Regions from separate parts of the Homo sapiens genome. Here region 2 is linked to region 1. The links come from fine-mapping of genetic effects on gene expression. A gene starts in region 1. The other region holds a variant in brackets. All regions are shown on one strand. Distances are between the middles of the regions.

Region 1 (10,778 bases):
CTTATGATTAGTGCTCCTATGAACATTTTCACACATGCCTTTTGATGTACTGCTTTCTTTTCTTCGTTTGAAAATTTTACTATTTTTAAAAATTAACTGTTTTACTTTTATCTATTTTTAATTTTTATTCTCGAGAAAGTACATTGTTTATTTCTTTAGAAAAGACATATTATAAATTTATTTTATTTTTAAAAATCTGTATTATATTAAATAAGTCAACAACACAGTCTAATTATTAGCCTTTCCAGTTAAAAGCTGATATATACTTTGTGACATCTGCTTTTAGTCTTGGTAAAGCAATCAATTAAAAAATGATTTTTCAATTCCAGGGTTAGTCATCTTATCAACCTAATAAAAAGATGCATCATTACAGACACCATAGTGGTGGGACAGGGGACAAGAACGAGTGTGGTACAAATGACATATCCAAAATGTTCTAGAAATAATACCTAATCAGATTCACTATACAACAAATACACTGGGGGAAATGCAGCATGAAGCCCGCTAGTATTGTGTAACTTCTCAAGAGCCATCCAGCCTCAGTTGTTTTTTTTTTTTTTTTTGAGATGAAGTCTCGCACTGTCGCCCAGGCTGGAGTGCAGTGGCGTGATCTTGGTTCACTGCAGCCTCCACCTCCCGGGTTCAAGTGATTCTCCTGCCTCAGCCTCCCGAGTAGCTGGGATTACAGGCGCCTGCCACCACGCCCAGCTAATTTTTTGTATTGTTAGTAGAGATGGGGTTTCACTATGTTGGCCAGGCTGGTCTTGAACTCCTGACCTCATGATCCGCCTGCCTTGGCCTCCCAAAGTGCTGGGATTACAGGGGTGAGCCACCACGCCTGGCCATACGTGAATCTTTCTTTTTAAGGAACATGGGTGGGCAGTCAGGTAGGAAACTTTTTCCCCTGCATAGCTTTTATCAACATATGAACAACAAAGGTAAATAAAGCAGCTCCCTGTAAAACCAGGAAGCCTTCAGGCTTGAGTCTAGCCCTACCAGCCTCTCATTTCTCTTCACTTTTCAGCAGCAGTCACCCCATTTTCCAGGCCCCAAGACCTTTTCTCACACCTCTCACTAACGCAAACAGGGGGGAAATATTCTTTTACACTTGGGCACTTGGAATGAAATTCCTCTCCATCTACATGTTAACATTTCAGGGATTAGAATCTTTGAGGTAACTGTTAATAATTATGGAATAGAAAGTTTCACCTCCTATTAAAGGACTTCAGGCCTCTTATTACAGTGAAGGAGGTACTTTTTATTGCCCCTAAAAAATCACACTTGCCTCTGAGGCTGACTTTCATCATTACAGGCCAACTGGAGTCCAAGGGTAACACAGAAAAAACAGTTAAGTGTCTGAGCTAGCCTATTCCCTTTCTGTCCTTAACAATTCACCTCCCATCCTTCTATTCTAAGACTTCCAGGTACCAGGGGTCTGCATCTGCATTTATTGTACCTTTAACAAATGCCTACGCCAATGCCCTGATCTGGCTTTCATCCCTCTAGTCATTCCCACTCCTCATCATTGTTGAGCTGTGCTAGTTGAGCTGTTGTTCTTGGGCAGTTCTTCCTTTTGGTATAGAGCTCCTGCTGCTTTACTCTCTAGCACTCAGGACCTGAAGTGAGCAAGGGGAGTAGGACTGCTACCTCGGGTAGCAATAGTGGGATATGGGGAAAGAGTGGCAGGATGGGAGAGAATGACAGAGAATCTCAGCCTCTGGCATATTAAGTTGAAGGCAAGCAAACCTCCAACGAATAAGGAAGAACATATCTTTTACAATGTGTAACAGGAGCACAAATGTATCCATTAAGTTAAAGATGATGATCACACAGGGAAGAAAAAAGGCATCATTTAAGGCCCTCATAATTAGCAATAAAGTAAAAAGAGGTAAACGAAAATCTAGCAGGGGATCCTTACATCAAGGCTGGACTTGGGGTCTAGACCACTTCCAATTCTGAGATTCTAAGATTCCTTCACGGACTCCCCCCGTGTGGTATTTTTTAAGATGATACTTGTACAGGAGATGGTTTGGGACTAAAGGAGCGTATGGCTTATAGGTAAGAGAACTCAACAATAAAAATCCCAACGGAGGGCCCTCGATATGTGGAGACACTCAGGCAGCTAGACACAGACCAGTGGCTCAGTGCCACGGCTGAAGACAGGGCTGCTCCACAAAGACTCACCTCCCTTGTTCTCAAAGTCATTCAGACAACAAGTATCCGCTATCCCTGGCCCCAATCTCAATGCTGGCTCCCACCTCCCTGTTTGACAAATGGGGAATTATAAGCCTCAGAGAGGCTACCAACTCCAGGTTCTGAAGCCAGGCCTTTCTGCCTTCATAGCCCAAGCTCTGTCACTGCACTGCCCTTGCCATGTTACTCCTTGGAGACAGATGCTAAAAACTTCCCAGTTGCTGGGCGCAGTGGCTCACACCTGTAATCCCAGCACTTTGGGAGGCCGAGGCAGGCGGATCACGAGGTCAGGAGTTTGAGACCATCCTGGCTAACATGGTGAAACACCGTCTCTACTAAAAATCCAAAAATTAGCCAGGCGTGGTGGCGGGCACCTGTAGTCCCAGCCACTGGGGAGGCGGAGGCAGAAGAATGGCGTGAACCCAGGAGGCAGAGCTTGCAGTGAGCCGAGATCGCACCACTGCACTCCAGCCTGGGTGACAGAGCGAGACTCCCAAAAACAAAAAAAAACACACAAAAAAAACTTCCAGCCATCCTCATAAAGTGAGGAGGTTGTTACGCACAGGGATTTTCTATAAAAGAATGATCACGAAACAAAACTTAAAAGTCACTGTGAATACAACTACTGAAAGCAATAAATAACTTAACGATGTAAGACAACATATAGCTGTTTTACTAAACTAGCAGTTCTTTGGTTACCCTGAGTAATTAGCTTAAGGAATTGAACAAGTGATACCAAAAATCTTTGAGCAAGACAGAAAAAAAAACCCAAAAATAAACAGTTAAACTATTATTATTTTTAAAATACCATAACAATATCTTATTTTAAAAGTTTTACAATATAAAATAAGTTAATACAAATGTTTTATTTACCACACTTTCGAGTAGAAACTTGATGTATACTTAACAAAATTTGCTTTTAACCTTGGTAAAGCAATTAAAAGGTGATTTTCAATAATTTCATTAAATGAATCAATTTATCTTTAGAAAGATAAATATCCCGAATTAATGGCTACAGAGACTTTCAACTCCCAATTCCCTGTGAACCCACTGGAGGCTTGTTCCTTCTCTCCAATCCCCTGTGATGGTGAGACAAAAATCAGAATATTTGATTTCAAGAAAATCATGGTAGCTTAGTGCTTCGTTTCTTCAGCTAAAGTAAATAACATAAGTTATGTTTGGGCTATTTATTTCTTCACATATGAACTTATTAACTTTCATGCACTTAAACTTGTAATTCAATCATAAAAAAATGAGTGGGAAAAACTATTGAAATGGGTCATTTTATCCATATTTATGTCTCCAGAAAGTGGCATATCTGTCAGAAATCACTTGCTAAATTCAACCAAATACCGTAACAGGCTTATTATTGCTGGCAGTGCTATCTGAATTGCCAAAGAGGCTCACACAAAAGGTATCCATCAATGTACAGCAACTTAGTTATCAGTGACATCATAAATTATCAACAATTCATTCAACAAATAGTGCCAGGCACTCTTCTAAGTGCTGGATAAGTAATGGTAAACAAAATGTATTCCTGCTCTCACAGCTTACAGTGTGGTAAGGACAGACATTAATCAAATAATCACATAATAGAGTGTGTAATTATAAAGTGAGATAAAGATTATAAAGAAAAGAATAAAAAGAATCTGATTTAGACTGGCAATGGGAATTAGGACTTCCCTGAAGAAGTGATGCTTGAGCCAATATCTGAGGTAGGGTGGGGGTGGGGGGTAAGCTTACACTGTAAGCTACACTGGTCAAGGAAGTTGAAGGTAGGCCAGTGTGTCTAGAGCACAGGAAGCTAGGGGTACCACAGATAAGAAAATAATGAAAAGCCTTGGAAAGGTTTTTAAACATGGAACAGGAAGCCTCTGCCATTACGTGGGTTCTAGTGGCGCCTGAACAACATACTGCCTGTAAGAGAGTTCTGTAAATCATAAAGCACCCTATACTTTGGTTAGTACTATTTAGTTCCATTATTTTGTTTTCCAAACTTTTGTCCTGGATGCCATGTAACTAGCTGCAAGCACAGAGCCAAAACTAGAATCTCGGTGTTCGAATCTATTGTTTTTGCCCCTACACCACACTGCATAAAAATTTCATTATTTATATCACTTAATTAGTCCAATGTCTATACCAGTAGTTCATAATGACAACAATAACTCTATTTACACAGTATTTGCTACATGTCAGGCACTTTTCTAAGCTCTATTATTTACATTAACTCATCTAATCTTCAGTTCAGGAAGGAAGGCTCTATTATTGTCCAGATGAGGACAGTGAGGCTAGGAAAGGTAGCTTACACAAAATCACACTGCTAGTAAAAGTTGGGGAGTTGCTAACCACAACACTAAAACATTTTATGTCTGTGTATGTATGTGTATAAATATCTCTATCTCGAGAGAGAGAAAGAGAGAACTCACACACAGAGAATTATATTCAACTCCAGCCTGGGCGACAGAGTGAGACCTTGGTCTCAAAAAATAAATAAATAAATAAATAAATCATATTCACATGTTTGAGGACCAGTGTCTTACTTTTTTGTATTCCCAGCCTAGCACATAGTGCCTGGAGTATTCGTAGCACTCAGGAAATACTTGATGAACTGAAAATGTATATAAGAGGCTGACGAAGGATTTGAATCTGGAAGTAAAGTGAGTTTCTGAGGCCCTCCTCCCAAGTCATGTATTCATCAGTAATTCATATGAAGGCTGTATTTTCCTCGACTTTCTTATTACATTGAAGATTTGTTCCTCACTACCGTTGCTATATTTCACAGCCTTTGGCTTGGAAACAAAGTGGGATAATGGACAATTACTAGTTCCAACCAACTCTCCAGCCACAAGCAGCCAGTTCTCGATCACATCAAATGCTCTTCCTCCAGGGCCGTTACACGGGATGTCCTGTCTGGAATGCCATTCCTCCCTTGGGTTCCTCTGTTCAAACATCACTTACTCAGAGAGGCCACCCTGACCATTCCATCTAAATTAACGCCTCAGGTCTTCTTCAGCAGGTCATTTGGCTTCTTTTCTTTCACAGAACTTATGACTCTCTGGAATTATTTGTCTATTCACCCCCCAGCCCCCAACTCTAGTGAGGGCAGGGGTCTTGTACAGCTGGTTCTCCAGATGTGTCCCCAGTGCCTAAAAAACTAAGTCAACATGTATTCAGCGAACGAATGAGAAGAGAATCACTCCCGAATTGTGCTCTCTCAAACCCCAAATACCCTTAACGCTTGCCTCTCCTGGTGGCTGTAATCCCATTTTTAACAATAACACCATTTTCAAGTGACTCTGAAGCTCGCAAAGTAGCGTTGCCTCCATTTTCTGAGTAGAGCCCCACAAACAATGCTCAGAAGGGAGGTCCGGCCTGGCAAGAATGCGCATGCCCCCCATTTACAGTCGATAAAATTGAGCCTCATTAGGGGATTCGCCAAGGCCGCTGCGAAATAACGAGCAGGAGCCCTGAAAAGTGTCCTGGTTCCGAAAACCTCTTCCCACGAGAGCGCATCGTGGACTCGAAATGCTTCATCACCTTTATTACTATTGTTCCTCAGTACTCATTCGAGACGCGTTCCAGGCGGAGGGAAGCAGCCCACCTGCTGACCCAAGACCAGGCGCCGGCCTCTCCACCCGGCCGCGCCCCTCGCGCCCCGCCCCCGGCCCCGCCCCCGCCGACCCGGCCCCACTCTTCGCCCCGGCCTCTACTCCCGCCCCGCCAGGGCTCCCGCGCCCCATAAGGACCACCCTCTTCCGCCTCAGCCAATCAGCAAAGCTTAGGGGGGCGGTGCCACAGGCCCCGGCCCTCCTATCTGGGCGCCAATTAGCCAGCCCATCCGTCGCTCACGAGGTCGCGCCTCGCACCCGCCTTCCTCCTTTTCTTTTACCCTCCCCTTCAGAAAAAACGGCGGTTGGGCTGCGACGGCCGCCAAAGGCGGACTAGAAGCGGAGGGGTGAAAATCCCGGCAGAGAAGGAAGAAGGGACTGCAGGCGGGAGGAGGAGGAGGATAAGGAGGAAGGGAGCCCGCCCAGCCGGAGCCATCTCCGTCGAGAACAAAATGGCGGCGCTGGCGGAGGGCCAACTATAAGGCGGGGCCGCGGCCATTCCCCCTCCACCCCCACCCTTGCGCCGGCCGGGCCGGTCAGGGGGAACCCGCTCGCTTCGCCCGGCCGCGGGCGGGGAGGGGAGGGGAGCGGCCCGGCCCACTATGCAAAGCGCCGGGCGCCGCCGCCGCCACCCCGTGGCAAAGGTAAAAGGGTCGGGTTCAGCCGCCGCCGCGGCGCCTCCATGTCCGCGCGCCAGGCCCGCCCCCTCCGCCGCCGGCCCGAGCCCGCCCGACCCTCTTTCAATTTTACCTCAGGATTTGGCGCCAAAGCGGCCTCGAAGCGGGTCCCGTGTCTGCGGCGGGCGGCCCCCGGCGCGGAGGGCAGGGCGCGGGGAGCCCGGGCTCCCGGTGTCGGCGGATGGCGGGAGCCCGGGGGCCGCGGGCTCGCGGGGCAGCGGGCGAGAGACGAGACGCCGAGGTGGGAGCGGGGTGGCGGGGACGGGCCCGGGGGCGCCGCCGGGGTCGCGGAGAAGGGGGGGTTTGTTATTGTTTTTGTCAGTGAAAGGTCAGAGTTCGTGACCCCGGTGCCGCCGCCGCCGCCGCCCGCGCGCTGGTAGGAGGAGGGCGAATGTTCTTCTTCCTCTTCCCAGCGCCAGCCTCGCCGCCGCGGCGGGGGGCGGGCGAGAACGCGATTGGCTGAGGCGCGCGCGCGCACCGGAACGCCGCAGCCGGCGCTCGGTCCATCCGGCCCGTGGGCTGTGGGGCCCCGGGCGGCGGCGGCTACGTAGCTGCCGCCGGCCTTGGCCGCGGCCGGGCGGGCGGATATGTGGCTTAAATGGCGCAGGCGTCGGGGCCTAGAGGCTGAAGGGCTGGTCGTCCTAAAAACTCGTGGACGTCGCGCACGGTTACCCGGACGCAGGCCCGCCCCTCTGGGGAACCGCGAGCTCCTCGCAGCTGGGTGGGGACCGTCCTCGCAGTGGCGGCCTCCACCCTGCCTTCTCGCTTAGCCAAGGCTTCTGGAAGGCTCGCAAAGTGTCTGTTGTTGGAAGAAGCCGGGCCCTGACTGGCGCGACGGATTCTCCCAGCCGCTCAGCAGAGCGTCTGTAGGTCGGAAGTGGGGGTTGTATTGGGTGGGTATTGAGCTCTTCGGCCCTTCCTCGGTACTGATAGTTTTTAATTTAGGTTTTAAAGGTCTAAAGATGCGCCCGTTCTGGCCATCTCAGGTGAAATGTTGAAACGCCCCAGAACCTATAATTTTTGGTTTCTTAGTAAACATACGATCCAGATCTTGTGTAATTCCATGCCCCTCCTCCTCGAAATTTGGAAGTAGTACATGGTAATAGGGATGTGTAAAGCAGCTTTTAGCAGCATTGCTTAAATTTATTTGAAGAAATTGGCCTGTCTTGCTCTTAAACTCTTGGGCTGTAGGTTTTCCTTACATATTTCTCTGTTTTATGTCGTGGTTTTGACTTGCCTGGGAAGGTGCAGGCGCTTATTTATCCTAAATGCCCTGAAGTGTTTAGGCTACAGGCTGTAGATCTTATACTGATTTTTTTTCTTCAGTTTTCTTGCTTATTAAGAATAAATATTGACTCCAGAATGGATGGGTTAACTTTTTTTCCCACACAGTATCCATTTGGGTTTTTATCAGGATGACTCCAACATTTAGTATTTTTTTTTCCATAATCTTATAATATTTCTATTTGGTAAAAAATGTTTTAAACACAGCTATTTCCCCTTCCTCCTTTTTCTGACGTTGCAAAATTGGGAAAAGAGCTAGGTTCGTTTTGTCATGGTAAAGCACAGCTCTTGAAATTGGAAGAGGCCTTAAGGGAATGTGGTCAAATTTTTTTCTTGCAGAAAGATTTTCCGATTTTAGGGGTGAAGTGGGTGAGAACTAGAAAGGTCAAGTGATGTACCTGAGAGGCAAAAGCAATTGCGTTTTTGCATTTTTGAAATTTGCTGTTTGATATTGGAATACATTCTTAAATAAATGTGGATCATTTTAATGCACATTTCTCACTTTATTTTTTTGCTAATGACTTATTGCTGTTTATTTTAGAATATGCTTTTTGTCTAATGATGTTAGATAAAAAGCAAATTTGGAGCAGTTTTCTTATTCGAGTTCAAAATGGTTCATAAAGCAGCGAAGACAACTCAAAACATCAGTAACACATTTGGCCCAGGAACTGCTAACAAACATACAGTGCAGTGGTGGCTTAAGAAGTTTTGCAAGGAAGAGAGCCTTGAAGATGAGGAACGTGATATGGGCCATGGGAAGTTGACAACGACCAATTGAGAGCAATCATTGAACTACATGAAAAATTACAGAAGAACTCAGCGTTGACTATTCTACGGTCATTAGGGTCGTTCAGCATTCGAAGCAAATTGGAAAGGTGAAAAAGCTTGATAAGTGGGTGCCTCATGAGCTGAGCGGAAATCAAAACTATCGTTTTGAAGTGTAGTCTTCTTTTATGCTACGCAACAACAAACCATTTCTCAATCGGATTGTGACATGTAATGAAAAGTGAATTTTATACAACAACCAGCTCAGTGGTTGGACCAAGAGGCAGCTCCAAAGCAGTTCCCAAAGCCAAACTTGCACCAAAAAAAAGGTCATGGTCACTGTTCGGTGGTCTGCTGCCCATCTGATCCACTACAGTTTTCTGAATCCTGGTGAAACCATTACATCTGAGAAGTATGCTCAGCAAATTGGTAAGATGCACCGAAAACTGCAATACCTGCTGCCTGCATTGGTCAACAGAAAGGGCCCAATTCTTCTCCACGACAACACCTGACTGCGTGTCGCACAACCAGTGCTTCAAAAGTTGAAGGAATTGGGCTACAAAGTTTTGCCTCATCCACCATATTCACCTGACCTTTCGCCAACTGACTACCACTTCTGCTAGCATCTTGACAACTTTTTGCAGGGAAAACACTTCAGCATGGTGCAGAAAATGCTTTCCAAGAGTTCGTCAAATCCTGAAGCACGGATTTTTATGCTACAGGAATAAACAAACATTTCTCATTGGCAAAAATGTGTTGATTGTAATGGTTCCTGTTTTGATTAATAGAATATGTTTTAGCGTAGTTACAATGATTTAAAATTCGCAGTCTGGAAATTTAATTTTTGCATCAACCTAATATTTCTATGGTAAATCCTTGCAAACATGGAAACAATGCATTTGGCCCAGTGCTTTGTGGTTGTGTACTCTTTTTCTTTGTTTTTTTAATAGATGGCATTGGCCGGGCATGGTGGCTCATGCCTGTAATCCCAGCATTTTGGGAAGGTGAGGTGGGTGGATCACCTGAGGTCAGGAGTTCAAGACCAGCCTGACTAACATGGTAAAACCCCATCTCTACTAAAAATACAAAAAAATTAGCTAGGCGGGGTGGCGGGCATCTAATTCCAGCTACTTCATGAGGCTGCGACAGGAGAATCATTTGAACTCGGGAGGCAGAGGTTGCAGTGAGCCGAGATCACACCATTGCACTCCAGCCTGGGCGATGAGCGAAACTGTCTCAAAAAAAAAAAAAGTTGGGGTCTCGCTGTGTTGACCAGGCTGGTCTCGAACTCCTGGCCTCAAGTGATCCTCCCATCTTGGCCTCCCAAAGTGTTAGGATTACAGGCGTGAGCCACCACACCCTGCCTGGTTGTGTACTCTTTTAAATACTAAGTTTTTAATGTTAAATGCTGCTTTTAGATACACTGTAAAAATACACCTATCAATGAGTTTTTTTATTAAAAACATTGCAATTGTACTAGACTTTAAATACTAAGCAATAATTCAGGCTTCAATGTTGGTTTATAGTTTTCTCATTTCTTTCATTTAATACCTCTGTAAAATGAAGCAGTTACTTCCATTTTCCTGAGGTGAGATAAGTGCCCTGCACAATGTTATAGGCCCAGTAAGTGAGACTGGAGCTCTGATCTAATCCCTTTGACATTAAAGTTTGTGCAGTAAACCAGCTATGTCAGTTTGCCACATTTGTAATAGTGTTCAATAAATTTTCACTTAAAGGTTTAATATTAAAGTAGTAGCAAGAATTCATAACCTTAATTGGCTTTAACAGCTTTTCTTTCCCTGAAAACAGATGCATATGTACACATGCACACAGATTGCTTACAATATCAGCACGTAAAAGGCCTTTGCACATTGAAGTCGGCACTGCTTTGGTGCCTTTTTTGTTTTTTGGCTCGGTGTTTTGACTGCAAGTCTTTTTGGATAGAATTTTATAGTTAGAAAGTAGCTAACACTTGGGTTTTATAGGCACAAAAAACAAGTCTTATACTAGCTGTACTTTATTTTTTGAGTTCTTATTAATGAGGAACATCCACTTTTGCATTGACAGTGATTTCAAGATTGCTTTATCAGCCTTTAAAGGATTCTTGACTAGTCGTGCACATCAGAACTGCCAGGTCCCCAGTGGTTCTGAAGCAGTAAGCTTTGGGTGGGCTCTGGCATCAGCACTTTCACTAAGCTTCACAGATAATTCTGATGCATACTCCAGGCCTGAACCACTGATCAATTTGAAA
Region 2 (11,050 bases), 56 kb before region 1:
ACAGCAGCTCTTAGTGGCAGTATATAACATACCTCAAGGCTCAGAATTTTTTTTTTTTTTTTTGAGACAGGGTCTTGTTCTGTTACCCACATTGGAGTGCAGTAGCACGATCCTGGCTCACTGCAGCCTCGACCTCCTAGGCTCAAGCAATCCTCCCATCTCAGCCTCCAGAGTAGCTGGGACTACAGGTAAGCACCACCATGCCTGGCAATTTTTTTTTTTCTCTAGAGATGGGGTCTTACTATTTTGCCCAAGCTGGTCTTGAACATCTAGGCTCAAGTGATCCTCGTGCCTTCGCCTCCCAAGGAGTTTACAGGTGAGAACCAATGCACCTGGCTAGATTATTCTTTTCTTTTTTTCTCAAAGACTCACGCTTATAAAAATTCAATGAATTACTTATAATTTTGGGTTTTTTTTTTTTATCTTCACCCTCCTAAGACATCCGTATCCTCCATTTAGAGAGATCACGCCCATGAAAAAACTAAAAATGCAGGCAGAAAAAAAAATCTCCCAAATACCCTATTGGAACACAAGGGTGACCATTAGGCAAGACCTTGTTAACAAACACAGATAGATTCCTATTTAATGACCTAGAGGACACATCAAATTGCAAGGATATATCCAAGCTCATTAAAATTTAAGTCGGCTGTGGAGGAGAGGTATTGTGCATAGAACTGTACCCCCTGAAAAGATACATTCCAGCCATAATTCCCAGTATCTATTAATGTACCTTACTTGGAAGTAGGGCCTTTGCAAATGTAATTAGGATAAGATGAGGTAATACTGCATTAGGGTGGGCCCTAATTCAATGACTGGTGTCCTTATAAGAAGACCATGTGGCAATGGAGGCAGAGATTGGAGTGATGCAGCTGCAAGCAAGCGAGGAATGCCAAGGACTGCTGGCACCCACCAGAAGGTAGGAAGAGGCAAGGAAGGACACTCTCCTAGAACCTTAAGAGAGCATGGCCCTGCTGACACCTTGATTTCAGACTTCTGGCCACCAGAAGGTTGGGAAAATAAATTTCTATTGTTTTAAGCCACTAAGTTTGTGGTAATTTATTGTGACAGCCCTGGGAAACTAATACAAGAGGCAAATTTTATTTCTTTACTTGGAACAAAAGTTCTTAAATTCCTGTCTGTAAACTATAACAAACTGGGGGGAATGAAGTAACGTTAAGAAGATATGTGTTGTTTTCTGTGATTTTTAAGGCCCTCAATAGCCTACCTATACACTCAGAGCTGCCATAATGCTTGTTGTGAAAAGATGAATTTGTTTGAACATGATTGATATGTTAGTAAATAATTTGAGTATAATGCAAATTTTGTGTTTATGCATGGTTTCTTCCATGAATAAACACTGAGGTGAAGTGATCCATGCAGGGATACTCAGTGCACATGGTATGAGTCACATTCAATCCATCTGGTGATTTCAGGTCACCCCATGTCCACCACTCACAGTAACTCATGAGACGCAATCCTCCCTACACCTACCTCCACAAAGAATCTACAAGGCTTTTTCTAGGTAAAGTGCCGTATTTACTTATTTATTTTTGAGACGGAGTTTCGCTCTTGTTGCCCAGGCTGGAGTGCAATGGCACGATCTTGGCTCACTGCAACCTCCGCCTCCCAGGTTCAAGTCATTCTCCTGCCTCAGCCTCCCGAGTAGCTGGGATTACAGGTATGCGTCACCATGCCCCGCTAATTTTTTGTATTTTTAGTAGAGATGGGATTTCTCCATGTTGGTCAGGCTGGTCTCAAACTCCCAACCTCAGGTGATCCGTCCACCTCGGCCTCCCAAAGTGCTGGGATTATAGGCACTAGCCGCCGCGCCCGACCAAGTACCATATTTATTATAGTCACTATGTATTTAACCACTTGCAGGTTTTATTAGATTCACTATCTGTTTTTTAATACGTTACTGACAAAGTTTTTGAGTGTCACTAATTTCATTTTTTCCAATCAGTCCTGTGGTTTTCATCACACAATTTGGCAAAGTGTGGGAATTTTCAGGAACACACATCACATTATAGCAGAACTGACTTTACTAAGCTAAGGTCCTCTCTAGTTCTAATCCCAAAGGACCCTGGAATGATCTCATACACCACCATTCTCCCCCATGTTACCCACTCTGTTCCAGCCAGTTCAACATCTCTGTTGCAAAGAAGAGCCTGCCAATGAATGGCCTGCAGGCAAAAACCAGCCACTGGATAACTTTTGTTTGAGTACCCAAAGTTTTTGTTTTTTTTTTTTCTTGAGACCAGGTCTTATTCTGTCACCCAGGCTGGAGTGCAGCAGCACGATGTTGGCTCTTTACAACCTCCACCTCTCAGCCTCAAGTGATCCTCCCATCTCAGTCTCCTGAGTAACTGGGACTACAGGCTCGTGCCAGCACGCCTGGCTAATTTTTGTATTTTTTATAGAGATGACGTCTCACTAGGTTGCCCAGGCTGGTCTTGAACTCCTGAGATCAAGCGATCCACCTACATCGGCCTCCAAAGTGCTGGGATCACAGGTGTGAGCCACTGCACTCAGCCCCCTAATTTAAAAAAAAAAACAAACAAACAAAAAAACTGTTTGCTAACATCTAAAAATTGAGTATTTCCCATAATCAAAATCAAATTTATAGTTCTCTTGACAAACTGGAAGCTCAGGTCATCCTGGGCTCAAGTTCTCCCCATGGTGCCAGGTGGCTGGAGCGGGTGTGGGTTGGCTACCTCTTTAGATGAGGTAGCCTCTCCAGTTTATCCCTATCCACCTTGCCACCTCTTTCACTGTAAACACCCGAGAAAGGGCTTGGTAGCTACAGACATGAATAGGAATGCTTGCTCTTCTACTTCCCAGCTGTGTCAACTTGGAGCAGTTACATAAGCCCTTGAGCTCCATTTATATATCTATGAAAAAGGATGACTAGGAAAGTGAAATGATACGATGTGTGTGAAACTGTTTGGTACACTGCCCAGAACATGACAGGACCTTGGTAAAGTATTTCTTCCCTCTAAGCTCTCACATACTCCTTTCCTCACTCAGTCTTGTCTTATCCCTTTCATCTTATCAAATCGCTCCTGAGGAAAAAGTCAAGACTTTTTACCATGGCTTACTCATTCTTTCATTCATTCCTAAAATATTTACTGAGGGGCTACTCTGTCAGACACTGTGTTAGACAGTGGCATATGAAGATGGCTCCTGCCCTCATGAAACTTTTAGTTCAATGGAAGAGACTGGCAATACACAAGGAAACAAACCAGTCAGTAAACAATTTCAATTTATGGTACATGTTATGAGGGAAAAGATCAGGTTGGGGTAACCCTGAATAACAAAAGTACTTAACTTTAAAAAGAGAGGTCAGGGGGCTGGGCACGGTGGCTCATGCCTGTAATCCCAGAATTTTGGGAGGCCGAGGCAGGCGGATCATAAGGTCAGGAGACCGAGACCATCCTGTCTAACATGGTGAAACCCCGTCCCTACTAAAAATATAAAAATTTAGCCAGGTGTGGTGGCGAGCACCTGTATTCCCAGCTACTCGGCAGGCTGAGGCAGGAGAATGGCATGAACCCGGGAGGCGGAGGTTGCAGTGAGCCAAGATCGCGCCACTACACTCCAGCCTGGGCGACAGAGCGAGACTCCGCCTCAAAAAAAAAAAAAAAAAGAGAGGTCAGGGAAAACCTCTGTGACAAGGTGACATTTAAGATGAGATTTGGGCTGGGTGGCACAGTGGCTCGCGCCTGTAATCCCAGCACTTTGGGAGGCCGAGGCAGGCTGATCAGCTGAGGTCAGGAGTTCGAGACCAGCCTGGCCAACATGGTGAAACTCTGTCTCTACTGAAAATACAAAATTAGCCTGGCGTGGTGGCGCATGTCTGTAATCCCAGCTATTTGGGAGGCTGAGGCAGAAGAATTGCTTGAACCTGGGAGGCAGAAGTTGCAGTGAGCCAACACTGTGCCACTGTACTCCAGCCTGGGCGACAAGAGCGAAATGCCTTTAAAAAAAAAAAAAAAAAAGATTCAAGGCTGAGGAGACAGCAGCCAAATAAATGTTTAGTGTTCCCAGCAAAGAGAAATGTTCTGGTATATGGAAAGCCCTGGGAGGAACAGTTTCTTGGGAACTGCTATCAGGCCCACAGACAACCAGCATGGCCCAGGAACCTAGAGAGGGAGGTGGAACGGCCCTGCTGCGAGTTTGGATTTCTTTCTGAGTACAATGAGAATCCCTTCAAGGGTTTGTCCCTCAACCCAAAACCAGCTCTTCAGATTTCCTATACTATTTATATACACACACATACCCACCTGCCCACTCACATACCTACATATACACAATTTCCTATAGTATACATAGAATTTACATATAGCATATATATAAAGTTTATAAGATAGGTCAGGGTATATTAGAGCATACCAAAAGATAATAGCAAAGATTATTGACTAAAAATAAAAAGGGTAAAAAGAACCTGCTTTAAAAAAGGTTTGCAAAAAGGTAAATAAATCCTGACCTTTGCAAAATGGTAAATAAATCTTTTACTTAAGTATAAATTTTAGCTCATATGAATAGTTCTGAATTACTATTTTATTTTTTTGAGACAGGGTCTCTCTGTGGCCCAGGCTGGAGTGCAGTGGCATGATCACAGCTCACTGCAGCCTCAACCTCCTGGGCTCAAGCAATCCTCCCACCAAAGCCTCCCAAGTAGCTAGGACTACAGGAATGCATCACCATGTCTGGCTAATTTTTTAGTTTTTTTGTAGAGATACAATCTCACTTTGTTGCCCAGGCTGGTCTCGAACTCCTGGGCTCAAGTAATAAGCCTTCTTCAGCCTCCCTAAGTGCTGGGATTACAAGTATGAGCCACTGTACCCAGCCTAAATGGAGGATATTAATCCAAATATATCAACAATCACTTTAAATATGAATTGATCCACATCCACCAATGAAAAGACAGATTGTCAGCTGGGTAAAAAAACAAGACCCTTATGAAATTATGTAGGAAGTAGGAAAAAAATGGGAAAAAATCAAGACCCCAATACATATTGCCTACAGGAGACCCATTTTATAAATAAAGACACAGACAGATGCAAAATAAAGGGATGGAGAAGCTGACAGTGGTGCACATTTGTAGTCCCAACTACTTGGGAGGCTGAGGCAAAAGGACAGCTTGGGCTCAGGAGTTTGAGGTTGTAGTGCCCTATGATCCTGTCTGTGAATAGTAAATGCACTCCAGCCTGGGCAACAGAGCAAGATTCTCCTAAAAAAAAAAAAAAAAAAAAGTTGGCCACGCACGCTGGCTCACACCTGTAGTCCCAGCACTTTGGGAGGCTGAGGCAGGTGGATTGCTTGAGCTCAGGAGTTTGAGACCCACCTTGGCAACATGGTGAAACCCCATCCCTATTTATAAAAAAAAAAAAAAAAAAAAAAAAAGCATTATGCGTGTGTGTATCCAGGCATGGTGGTATGCACCTGTAGTCCCAGCTACTTGGGAGGCGTAGATGGGAGGATGGCTTGAGCCTCTGAGGTAGAGGCTGCAGTGAGCTGTGTTCACGCCATTGCACTCCAGCCTGGGTGACAGAGCAAGACCCTGTCTCAAAAAAAAGAAAAAATGTCAAAACATAGAGAAAGTTATACCATGCTAGCAACTAACACTAATAAAAAGAAAACTATAGTAATTTCAGACAAAGCAGACTTCAGAACAAGGAAAATAAACATAAAGGGAAATGGTACATAATAAGAAAGGGGTGGCTGGGCATGGTGGCTCATGCCTGTAATCCCAGCACTTTGGGAAGCTGAGGCAGGAGTATCACTTGAGGTCAGGAGTTCAAGACCAGCCTGGGCAACATAGCAAGACTCTGTCTCAAAAATAAATAAATAAAAAGAAAGCAAGCAACCAAGAAAGCAAGCAAGAAAGGGGTTAATTCTCCATCGCTTCTCGACCTTTTGGCTAAGATCAAGAAAGGGTTAATTCTCCAAAAAGACATAACAATATAAAACATATATGCAACTAACAACAGAGCATCAAAGTGAGCCAAAAAAACTGATAAAACTGCAAGAAGAAAAACAGAGAAATCAACCGTTATAATTGGCTTTTTGATTCAGCTTGTTGAGATAACAATAAATCTTTGTCATCAATATATTATCCCTTCCTCCCAGCTTTTTGCCTTCAAGCTTGATACACCTACCTTCTCTTTGTTCAAAGATGTGAAAACACTCA[A/G]TGGGCCAGAGGCAGGTTCAGAGCCCTAGGGAAGACAACTTCCCATAAGTGAATATCGATTAGTTAATAACAATATTAGTAATAAGTTATTATATAATTAGTAAATATTGAACATTATTATGTGCCAGGTACCATTCTAAGCACTTTATAAGCAATATCCCTTTGATTCTTCATAATAACTTCGTGAGGCAAATACTACTATTATGTCTATTTTCCAAATGAAGAAAGTGAGGCATTAAAAAGTTAATTGACCAAGGTCAACAAAGCTAAGTGGGGCACTGGATTTGACTTCAAGTAGGGGCCCTTGCTCTTAATTACAGTACTAAGACATACTGCCTCTCAATTTAGAAGCAAATAAGTAATAAAATGGTACTTTATCTCAATGGTTTGAAACAACAGTTTAGGCTTTTGCTTTAAATGTAAGTTGGTTAAATAAATGTAAGCATTTTTTCTTTATTTTTTTTAAAGAATTGATGAAGTTGTACTGTATTTCATGCCCAAAAGGCACAACTCTTTAGTGAAACCCTTAGGAAGGTTTGTTTTTGGAAAGAGTTCTTCTGGAAAGGCAGGGTTGCCATTGGCAGGTTGCAGGTACCTGAATGCGCTGAGGTGAGGCTACAGCAGAGTCGGTGGAGATTATCTGGATGCGTGGGGAGGGGCTGGTCATCCCTGGAGATTCCGGCCGAGAGGTCTGTGTACGTGTTACCTGTGGGTGAGAAGTGGGCTGGATCACAAGGGGGTTCAGAATGATGCCCAGAGGTGGCCTGAAGACCACGCCTCTTGCTTTCACTGTGGCCTGGAGTGATGAACTTGTATGGTTCTGAGGTATGGACCCAGAAGGATGATGACAAAGCAATCAATGAGATGTTGCTACAGGATGCCCCCCAGGAAAATACAATCTTAAAACAGCTGTTTCAAATGTTGAAAATGTAAGAAGAAACCAAAGGAATTTGCAGTTGTGCTCTGCACACTTTAATAAAGTAAAAACCTACCAAAACAACATTTTAAAGATGATCTTTGAATGTTATCCCTGTCTCCAAAGCCACCTGTAAAACATTCCTTTAATATGGTTTCCCGAGAAAGGCTCTCACAACACAGCAGGGGATGACAAACAAAACCAACATTACACTGAAACCTACTGGGATTAGTACTTATAAAAGCGTCCTGGTAATTTCTCAGCCCCAATGGGATGGAGCTGGGAAAAGCCTGTCAGGACCACAGGGTCTGAAATTTAGTCAATACCTATCCCAAAGGCAAGGTACAAGGTGCTGAGTGGTCACCTGGGTATCTGAAGCAGGCAGATATATTTTTTCTTGATAGAAAGTGTATTGTGGCTGGGTGTGCTGGCTCACACCTATAATCCCAGCATTCGGGAGGCCAAGGTGGGCAGATCACTTGAGGTCAGGAGTTCGAGACCAGCTGGCCAAAATGGTAAAACTCCATCTCTACATTAAAAAAAAAAAAAAAAATTAGCCAGGCACGATGGTGCGCACCTGTAATCCCAGCTACTCGTGTGGCTGAGGCAGGAGAATCGCTTGAACCAGGGAGGTGGAGGCTGCAGTAAGCGGAGATTGTGCCACTGCACTCCAGCCTGGGTGACAGAAAAAAAAAAAAGTGTATTGTGGGTCGGCGGCGGTAGCTCACGCCTGTAATCCCAGCACTTTGGGAGGCCGAGGTGGGTGGATCACTTGAGGTCAGGAGTTAGAGACAAGCCTGACCAACATGGTAAAACCCTGTCTCTACTAAAAATACAAAATTAGCCAGGCATGGTGGCCCGTGCCTGTAATCCCAGCTACTAGGGAGGCTGAGGCAGGAGAATCGCTTGAACCCGGGAGGCGGAGGTTGCAGTGAGCCAAGATCATGCTATTGTACTCCACCCTGGGCAACAAGAGTGAAACTTTGTCTCAAAAAAAAAAAAAAAAAAAAAAAAAAAAAAGTATATTGTGAACACTTCACAAAAAACTCTTCCTAAAATTAGAAGAAAACACTTCCCAATTCTGTGAGGCCAATATTACCTGATACTGAAACCAAAGACATCACAGGAAAAGAAAACTACAGACCAATATCTCTTATGAATAGAAACACAAACAATCCTCTACAAAACTCTAGCAAACCAAATCCAGTGGTATATAAAGGATTATACACCACGAATAACTGGGGTTCATCCCAGGAAAGCAAGCTTGTTCAAATATGAAAATCAAACAGTTCTATACATTGCATTAAAGGAATAAAGGACAGAAGCCACATAATTATTTCAATTGATGGCGAAAAAGCATTTGACAAAATCTAACAACATTTCATGAAAAAAACACTCAATAAACGAGATATAAAAGGAAAGTTCTCAATCTGATAAAGGGTCTCTATAAAATACTCACAGCTATACAGTATACTTAGCGGTAAAAGACTAAAAGCTTTCCTTCTAAGGTTAAGAATAAGATGAGGATGTCCATTCTCTCTACCTCAACATTGCACTAGGGGTTCTAGCCAGGGCAATTAGGAAAGAAAAAGAATAAAAACATTCAGAATAGAAAGGAAGAAAACTATCTCTGTTTGCAAATAACATGATCTCATATAGAAAAAAATCCCACAGAATCCACAAAAAACCCATCAGAGCAAGTAGACGAGTTTCAGGGTTGCAGGATATAAGATCAAAACACAAAAACTGGCCAGGTGCAGTGGCTCAAGCCTGTAACCTTGGCACTTTGGGAGACCGAGGTAGGAGGATCACTTGAGGTCAGGAGTTTAAGACCAGTCCGGACAACAAAGCAAGACCCATCTCTACAAAAAAATCAAAAAATCAGGTGTGTGTGGTGGTACGTGCCTGTAAGTCCCGGGTACTCAGTAGGTTAAGGTGGGAGGATTGCTTGAGCCCAGTTGTTCTAGGTTGCAGTGAGCCATGATTGTGTCACTACACAGCCTGGGCAAGACTTTCAAAAACAAAAAACAAGGCCAGGCACAGTGGCTCACACCTGTAATCCCAGCACTTTGGGAGGCCAAGGCAGGCGGATTACCTGAGGTCAGGAGTTCAGGACCAGCCTGGCCAACATGGTGAAACCCCATCTCTACTAAAAAACACAAAAATAAGCCGGGTATGATGGCGGGGCCTGTAATCCCAGCTACTCAGGAGGCTGAGACAGGAGAATTGCTTGAACCCAGGAGGCGGAGGTTGCAGTGAGCCAAGATCACGCCATTGCATTCCAGCCTGAGCGACATGAGTGAAACTCTGTCTCCAAAAAAAAAACCAAAAAAAAAAAAAAAAAAAACCCAAAACAAAAACACAATAATCAATTGTATTTTTATATATTAGCAATGAGCAATCTGAAAATGAAATTAAGGAAGCAATCCCACTGACCATGCATCAAAAAGGATAATATATTTAGAAATAAAATAAATTTAACAAAAGAAATGCAAGATTTGAATACTGAAAACTATAAGATATTGCTATGAGAAATTTAAAACACCTAAATAGGCTGGGCACGGTGGCTCACGCCTGTAATCCCAGCACTTTGGGAGGCCGAGGCAGGTGCATCACAAGGTCAGGAGATTGAGACCACCCTGGCTAACACAGTGAAACCCTGTCTCTACTAAAAATACAAAAAATTAGCCGGGCGTGGTGACGGGTGCCTGTAGTCCCAGCTACTCAGGAGGCTGAGGCAGGAGAATGGTGTGAATCCGGGAGGCAGAGCTTGCAGTGAGCCGACATTGTGCCACTGCATTCCAGCCTTGGCAACAGAGCAAGACTCCGTCAAAAAAAAAAAAAAAAAAAACCTAAATAAATAGAAAGACATTTGTGACTTAATATTGTTAAGATGGTGATATTCCCCAAATTGATCTAAAGATTCAATGTAATCCCTATCAAAATTTCAGGTGCTTTTTTGCATAAATTGACAAAATGATCCTAAAATTCATATGGGAATGCATGGGACCCAGAGTATCCAAAACAATCTTGAAAAAGAACAAAGTTGGAGGTCTCACACTTCCTTATTTCAAAACTTATTTACAAAGCTACGGTAATTAAAACTGTGTGGAATCCAGCAATCACACTTCTGGGTGTTTACCCAAAAAGATTTGAAATCAGTTTGTTGAAGAGATGTCTGCACTCCCATGTTCTCTGCAGCACTGTTTGCAATAGCCAAGTTACATAATCAACCAACAAGTCCATCAATAGATGAATGAATAAAGAAAATGTGGTATATACACACAATGGAATACTATTCAGCCTTTAAAAAGAAGGAAATTCTGTCATTTCTGATGACACGGATGGAACTGGAGAACATTATGGTAAGTGAAATAAGCCAGGCACAGAAAGACAAATACCACATGTTCTTACTTAAATGTGGAATCTAAAAGAATCAAACTCATAAAACCAGAGTAAAATGGTAGTTAACAGAGGCTGAGGGGCAGGGGGAATGGGGAGATGAAAGTCAGGTCAAAAGGTACAAAATCTTAGGAGGAATACTTTTCTTTTTTTTTAGACCTATTGCACAGCATGGCGAATACAGTTAATAATAGCCTATTGTACATTTCAAAATTGCTAAGAGTAAATTTCAAATGTTCTCATGGCAAAAATAAGTATTTAAGGTGATGGATATGTTAATGAGCTTGATTTAATTTTTACACATTGTAGTCACGGATCATAACATCACTTTGTACTGTAAATATATGCAATATAAACTCAATTTGTAACTTAAAAAAATTGCAGTACCGGCATAAAGACAAGACATACAGACCAATGGAATATAACAGAGAATGCAGAAATAAACCCTCACCTATATGTTCAAATTTGATAAAGGTGCCACGATAATTCAATAGGCAAAGAACAGTCTTCGACAAATGGTGATGGGACAAGTGGAAATC

The links.
Region 2: its variant is fine-mapped to the expression of NR2C2 in whole blood (TOPMed, PIP above 0.99).

The regions. Positions count from the first base shown.
Region 1 is chr3:14,943,680-14,954,457 of GRCh38, reverse strand. NR2C2 (nuclear receptor subfamily 2 group C member 2) reads right to left here and starts at 6,875. Exons shown (of 14, transcript NM_001291694.2): 1 at 6,552-6,875. FGD5-AS1 (FGD5 antisense RNA 1) reads left to right here and starts at 6,017. Exons shown (of 2, transcript NR_046251.1): 1 at 6,017-6,445; 2 at 8,304-10,778. RefSeq lists enhancers at 4,971-5,658, 6,013-6,212, 5,659-6,346, 7,035-7,724 and silencers at 5,813-5,872, 6,263-6,682, 6,703-6,772, 6,823-7,252.
Region 2 is chr3:14,999,725-15,010,774 of GRCh38, reverse strand. NR2C2 (nuclear receptor subfamily 2 group C member 2) reads right to left here. Exons shown (of 14, transcript NM_001291694.2): 2 at 6,789-6,899. The coding sequence starts at 6,860. Among named protein-coding and RNA genes, the nearest start is that of FGD5-AS1, 57 kb to the right of the region's middle. The variant A/G (reference allele first, on the strand shown) is at 6,194.